Linked DNA regions of Homo sapiens. The protein of the gene in region 2 interacts with the protein of the main gene of each other region in a pairwise test. Each region holds a gene or a part of one and is shown on either strand. Other genes may lie near its edges.

Region 1 (3,656 bases), on a different chromosome or scaffold from region 2:
TGAGATTGTATTGAATATATAGATCAATATATGGAGAGAATGAACATCTTAAAAATATTGAGTCTTGCAAAACATAAACAGTATATCACTGTTATTTTAGGTCATCTTCAATTTCTTGGCAGTGTTTTGTAGTTTGCAGTGTTTTCTAGTTTACAGTGAACAGGTCTTGTGCATCTTTCATTGAATTTACTACAACATAATTTTTGCAATTAAAATTATTTTGTTTTCCAATTCATCATTTCTAATACACAAAAATTCAAATGACTTTTTAATATTGGTCTTATAATGTGTGACCTTGCTTCTGGTACCTTTTTGTAGATTTTTCTGGGTTTTCTATATACACCGTTATATTATCTGCCAATGAAGACAGAATTATTGTTGTACCTCCTTTCTAATCTCTTTGACTTTTATTTCTTTTCTTTTGTTGCACTGGCTAGGAACTCCAGTACAGTGCTGGGCGAGGTGGCTCACACTTGTAATCCCAGCACTTTGGGAGGCTAAGGAGGGAGGATCACTTGGGGCCAGGAGTTCCAGACCAGCCTAGGCAACAAAGTGAGACCTCCTGTCTACAAAAAAAAAAAAAAAAAAAAAAAAATCAGTTGGTCATAGTGGTGCACAGCTGTAGTCCAGCTACTGGGGAGGCTGAGGTGGGAGGATTGCTTGAGCCCAGAAGTTTGAAGTTGCAGTAATCTGTGATAGTGCCACTGCACTCCAATGTGGGTGATAGAGTGAGACCCTGTCTCAAAACAAAACAAAAAACAGTTGAATAGATTTTAGGGAAAGAAAAGTGTTCCATATTTCACCATTAAGTATGATGTTAGTTGTATATTTTTCATAGATGTCCTATATCAGATTGAAGAAATCCCTTTCTATTCCTATTTTCTACTTTTTTTTTTTTTTTTTTTGAGATGGAGTTTCGCTCTTGTTGCCCAGGAAAATGGGCAGTGGTCTGATCTCGGCTCACTGCAACCTCCGCCTCCCAGGTTCAAGCAATTCTCCCATCTCAGCCTCCTGAGTAGCTGGGATTACAGGCGCCTGCCACTATGCCCGGCTAATTTTTGGTATTTTTAGTAGAGACGGGGTTTTACCATGTTGGCCAGGCTGGTCTCGAACTCCTGACCTCAGGTGATCCACCCGCCTCGGCCTCCCAAAGTGCTTGGATTATAGGCATGAGCCACCACGCCCAGCCCCTATTTTCTACTTTTTATTCTGATTTTTTTCTTTGATTTTAAAGTATAAAATTTCTGTAATTATTATTTTTTTACAGTAAGTATTCATTTAGATTTATCCACCTATTTGCCCATTCCAGTGTCTCATTCCTTTCTGCATTTCCATATTTCCATGTGGCATCATTTCTTGTCGGCCTGAATAACTTTTGTGTACCTCTTTGAATATTACTTCTATCCCATTCTTTCTAATCTTCTGGAACTCCAATTACATATATGTTTAATCTTTTGAGCAGTTTTTGATCATTGTTATTTGCTTACTTCAGCATCTTGATCATCACTGGTTCTGTTTCTGTTTCTGTTTCTTTTTCTTTTTTCTTTTTGGGACTGAGTCTCGCTGTGTCACCCATGCTGGAGTGCAGTGGTGCGATCCTTGGCTCACTGCAACCTTCGCTACCCGCGTTCAAGTGATTTTCCTGTCCCAGCCTCCCGAGTAGCTGGGACTACAGGCACATGCCACCACGCCCAGCTAATTTTTGTATTTTTAGTAGAAACAGGGTTTCACCATGTTGGCCAGGCTGGTCTTGAACTCCAGACTTCAAGTGATCCGTCCCCCAGGCTTTCCAAAGTGCTGGGATACAGGCGTGAGCCACCGTGCCTGGCCTGCTTCTATTTCTTTTATTTAAACAAATTTTGTTTCCTTTATATGGCTTTGCCTTTGCATGGGTAGTAGTCATTTTCTATTGTTTGTTACATTATGTGTGAAAAGATTGTACACACTCCATGCCAGATGAAGTTGATCATTTGAGGTCAATTTTACAGTAAACAGCTTTGAATAGTACATTGCTGACATTTCATATCAGACATTTCTTAGTGCGGTGTGTTTCCAGGGAAACAGGGCTGGGTATAGTAGGGGAGCCTGACATTATCTTCCCACAGAGAAAGGGATTGACATTTTGTTAAGTCTTTCTCCATGCTTGGGCAAATCATTTAACTTTGGAACCTTCATTTCATTTTTTTTTTTTTTCTGAGACGGAGTTTCACTCTTGTTGCCCAGGCTGGAGTGAAGTGGCGCGATCTCGGCTCACTGCCACCTCCACCTCCCCGGTTCCAGTGATTCTCCTGCCTCAGCCTCCCAAGTAGCTGTGATTACAGGCGCATGCCACCATGCCCAGCTAATTTTTGTAGTTTTAGTAGAGACGAGGTTTCACCATGTTGGCCAGGCTGGCCTCAAACTCCTGACCTCAGGTGATCTGCCCACCTTGGCCTCCCAAGGTGTTGGGATTACAGGCGTGAGCCACCACGCCTGGTGCCTTCTTTTTTTTTTTTTTTTTTTTTTTGAGATGGAGTCTCATTCTTGTTGCGCAGGCTAGAGTGCAGTGGTGCGATCTTGGCTCACCGCAACCTCTGCCCCTCAGGTTCAAGTGATTCTCCTCCCGAGTAGCTAGGATTACAGGCATGTGCCACCACCCCCGGCTAATTTTGTATTTTTAGTAGAGATGGGGTTTTTCCATGCTGGTCAGGTTGGTCTTGAACTCCCGACCTCAGGTGATCCACCTGCCTCCGGCCTCCCAAAGTGCTGGGATTACAGGTGTGAGCCACCATGCCTGGCCTTCATTTCTTAATTATAAAATTGAGTTAATAAGTAGTACCTACCTTATTCTGTGGATTAATTAGATGTACATGATTAATGTTTAGCACATTGCCTGGTAAATAGTAAGAGCTCAATTAAACATTACCCTCTCATCTTCATTATCACTGGAGATCCACGTAGTACTTAGAAAATTTGTGGATTACTGAATAGCATTGAGCTACTTCTGAAGAGAAGGGGCAAATTTGTTTCATTTGGGATGCATTACTGGCAGTTTTTTATAGGTCTTTTTGGATTTATTTATTTATTTGAGATGGAGTCTTGCTCTGTTGCCCAGGCTGGAGTGCAGCGGCACTATCTCGGCTCACTGCAACCTTTGCTTCCTGGGTTCAAGCAATTCTTTTGCCTTAGCCTCCTGAGTAGCTGGGATTACAGGTGCCTGCCACCACGCCTGGCTAATTTTTGTATTTGTAGTAGAGATGGGGTTTTGCCATTTTGGCCAGACTGGTTTCGATCTCCTGACCTCAGGTGATTCGCCCACCTCGGCCTCCCAAAGTGCTGGGATTACAGGCGTGAGCCACCGCGCCCAGCCTTTTTTGTTATTTTTAAATTTGAGAGGACAAACTAGAGGACTAATTTGAGATTTTCTAGGTTTTTCCCTGTAATATAGACATTAGTATTTGCTGATTTTAGTCTGATTTTCCAAAATTGCAACTTAGAATAAATTTACTATTTAAAATAGAATATTTGGAGGTTTCTTATTACATTTATGTCTGTTTCTTTAAATATCTCAATCTAGTTAGGTATAAAAGTAAATATTTTCTTATTTAACGTATTACTTCTTGTAGGAAACTTTGAGGGAAATTTTGAGTCACTGGACCTTGCGGAATTTGCTAAGA
Region 2 (3,656 bases):
GTATTCTATGCTTCTGCTGCATATATGTCCTGACAAATGTGGTATGTTTCATTCACTCAACAAATACTTCTGAAGTGTTAGCTGTATGCCAGGCACTGGTGAGACAATGACTTTGAAGTGGCCCTTCCCTATGGTGATGCCGTATGGGTTCCTATCAATCCCAATATCAAAAACCATAAAATCATAGGGAGAAACATACATTCCACAAAATAAATTACAAAATTTAATTTTATGAAAGGAGACATTTTTCTGAATGACAAAGTAGTACCTATCATAAAATGGTGTAGACACTGTGTCTGCATTTCTACGCATGCCTACTGGTATACTGTCACCCCAGTAAACAGCAAATGGTGACATTTTCATGTGATCTGAGTTTCTTAAATTGAATGCTGGACCATTATAGACCAAAACTATGAAATTAGTTGTTTTCTAATGCAAACACTGTAACTGGCTTTAAATTGCATTGACGTCTCTGAAATGGTCTCTTAGAGATTTGGATTCGTGTGTGTGTGTGTGTGTGTGTGTGTGTGTGTGTGTGTGTGTGTGTGTGTGTGTGTTTTAGTTGTTGGGTGCTAAAACAATATTTGAAATATTATATAACATTTGTATTATCTAAATATCATAGTCCTCTTTGGCTAAAGTTTCTCAACATTTGGGGAGACATTAATATAAATTATATCTAAGAAAAATATAGAATTCCATAACTAAGTGGATAAATCATATTTAGAAACCTTTCCTTTTAAATTTCTACCATTTAAAAAAATTTAAATAAATAAAATTTAGAAGACGTAACTTTACACCAAAGAGAAGGGAGGTTCTTGTTGGGTTTGAAAATACTTGTTCTCACAGTAACATCATAGAGAATGGAATTACTAACAAAAATCACAAGTTTGGGGCTAAATGTAAAAGTATTCAAATTCAAAATGTGAAGTGAAGCCCGTAATTGATTACGGTAACTTTGGGACAGAAGGTTTTGTGTATCTGAAATCTTGTTAGGAAAGGTCACAGGATTTCTTCACCAGACAGTTGGCCATAGATTATTAATATATGTAAACTCAACTCAATCTATGGATATAACTAAACCCAAAGCAAACCATCTTCTTTATGTTTAATTACATTATACCTAATCTGTTACACTATTTTACACTTTACTTATTGAACTACTGAGGTATTAAACATTTTCAGAAACCTATAGCAAATATGGACTGTGAAATCATAACAATTAAGCCACAGGAGGAAAATGCATAAACAATGAATGCCTTTTTTGTCTCTAACATTATTTCATTGACCAATCTGGTAATATTCTCATAAGATTCCCTGCTTAGAAATTGCATTTATAGTATGTCCCTTGTTAAAAACAAAACAAAACAAAACTCAACATTTTAATTTAGAAGACCATAATTTGATCTAACCTTAATACAACTAACAAATAATAAAATTATAATTATCAAAAAGTTAGCAACAGGTATTAATATGTAGTAAGACTCCAATGGGTATGGCCTTAGAAAACCAACACCAAAGAGAAAATATCTTCCAAAAAATAAAAAGTGCTTTGAAGAAAAATGTTCCCTTGTTTTAGTTTAGCCAAAACAGCCAAAACAAACAAGCATGTGGTCTTTGTATGAGCACATGGTAATGACACTAAAACAGTAGCGCACAAAAACAGTGTTTTTTTTTTTTTTTGATGACTATTTGCTGTGGATTATTTTCTGAGACGGTAGACACTTGTTTCCTTACATAGCACCTTGTAAGAAGGAAGGACACTTTTCTTAGAATAACTGATGGATTTCACTATCACACTGGAGCAAAGCAGTTTATTTCTATAGGTGTACATGCATTTCTGCTTTTTATATTATGCATTAACTTGAAAACACATTTTAAGTACCTCACTTTCCATTCCTTATACATACTGTAATTTATTTTAGTTAAAATGTTAGTAAGAAGCCCAGGCACCTGCTGATTAAGCATACATGGCACATAATACCATAGCTCTCATGATCACAGCCCCAAAAAAGTAAATCTCAAGAAACAACTGCATTAGCAGCCATGCCAAAGATTTAGAAAGGTTATTATCCTGTGAACAATTATGGTTCTTGTTTGATTGAAAAATTCATAATAAAAACATAACACTTTTGGGGATACAATGTTCATTATACACCATTGTAGTCAGTGGCTACTTTAGTTTTCATTTTTGTTAAGATTCCAAATAATAAAACTATTTGCAAACTGTTGATTTCCTTGTAAATTCCCCTTTCTTTGGCTAAATCAATATATGTAAATATCTTTGTTCATATATTAGTTAAGCTTTAAAATGAGGTTGTTTATGTTCTTGCATTCTTATAAATAACCCACAAATATGTAATCCCTCTAATTCTCTTAAAAAAAGATATAATTATATTTATTTAGGGAAAGTAAAAAAGGTATAAAATTTGAAAAGTATTTTTATGTCTAAAATTATCTAGTTAGATCACTCTGGTTCAAGGATACTTTCTTTTTTAGCTTGGGCCTATTAACCTTCCTTATTTCACTCCAATCCAAGGGCAATGAGGAGAACCCAGTGTATGGCAAACACTCTCAAGATTTGAGAGCCTATGAAGATGCAGAAAACACAGACTTTGCTTCTTCCCTACAATCAGCTGAATATGTATACTTAATTAATTATTATCAGGTATATATAAACAACAACAGTGACGTATGAAATACCACAGGAGAATTATTTTTAATTGTATCCAATAAATGAAGGCTTCTCAGAGGAGATGGCATTTTCTCTCAGCTTTTCAAAATGAGAATAATTTCATAATTTCAACAGGTGAATGTAGAAGTGAGGAGAAGATGCTAGACACACAGTAAAGCACAAACAAAAGGATAAGGATTTGAAAGCATATGACTAATTTGCGGGGTGTGTGGCATTGTATTGTGTTTGAAATCTGTGGAGGTCGGTGGAGGGTAGATGGAGCTGAATCTGGAAAGGTGGGTTGCAGTCATGCTGCCTACCACACCATTAATAGCCATCTTGCAAATTTCTGTCCTTCACAAGAGTAAGTCAACTGGTATAAACATCACTCTTCTATAGGGGTAGGGGTGATGGAGATAGGAAAGAGTGTGGGTGTAGGGCTCCAACTCAATAATCTTTACATTAAATAAATTACTACTTAATAAAGGATTTTTTAAAACCCTACATTTCAAAAATGTGTATTACCCTTCCCCAAAACACAAAATGTGGAGCTATTCTTTATTCTGTTTTCAAGCATATCACACTATATTCTACTTGACAATGTGCTTAAAATTTCTATGCCTCTTTTTTTTCTCCCAATGGGACAATATTTTTTCCACCTCAAGGTCTCTGCACACACATTGCTTTTTCTACCTGCTCTTAAAATCTCTGCATCCTTCTTACCTGTCATCTCTCAACCTGTGGATCCCAGTGTTGCCCACCCTGACTACTTTATCTAATTAGATCCCTCTCCCCACCCCTCTCTCCTCCATAATTCTTTATCCCAGCTCTCTTCATGCTTTATAGGACTTTGAATTTTATTATTTCTTATTAATTTGTTCCTTTCCATAGGCAATGACTCTCTACCCCATGTTTGTGAGCTCCATGATGGCAGGAACTTCAACTCTTCTATTCACTGCTGTATGTATATATAATACCTGCT

Evidence for each region. The genes of interacting proteins can lie anywhere in the genome.
Region 1: the proteins of FGF14 (region 2) and FUNDC2 interact in binary tests that used the Homo sapiens proteins (3 or more experiments, as listed by UniProt).

Annotation. Positions count from the first base shown.
Region 1 is NC_000023.11:155,029,798-155,033,453, forward strand, and holds part of FUNDC2 (FUN14 domain-containing protein 2), read left to right. Parts: intron 1-3,605; coding exon 3,606-3,656. UniProt on the Homo sapiens protein: Binds directly and specifically 1,2-Diacyl-sn-glycero-3-phospho-(1'-myo-inositol-3',4',5'-bisphosphate) (PIP3) leading to the recruitment of PIP3 to mitochondria and may play a role in the regulation of the platelet activation via AKT/GSK3B/cGMP signaling pathways.
Region 2 is NC_000013.11:101,910,337-101,913,992, forward strand, and holds part of FGF14 (fibroblast growth factor 14), read right to left. Parts: intron 1-3,656. UniProt on the Homo sapiens protein: Probably involved in nervous system development and function.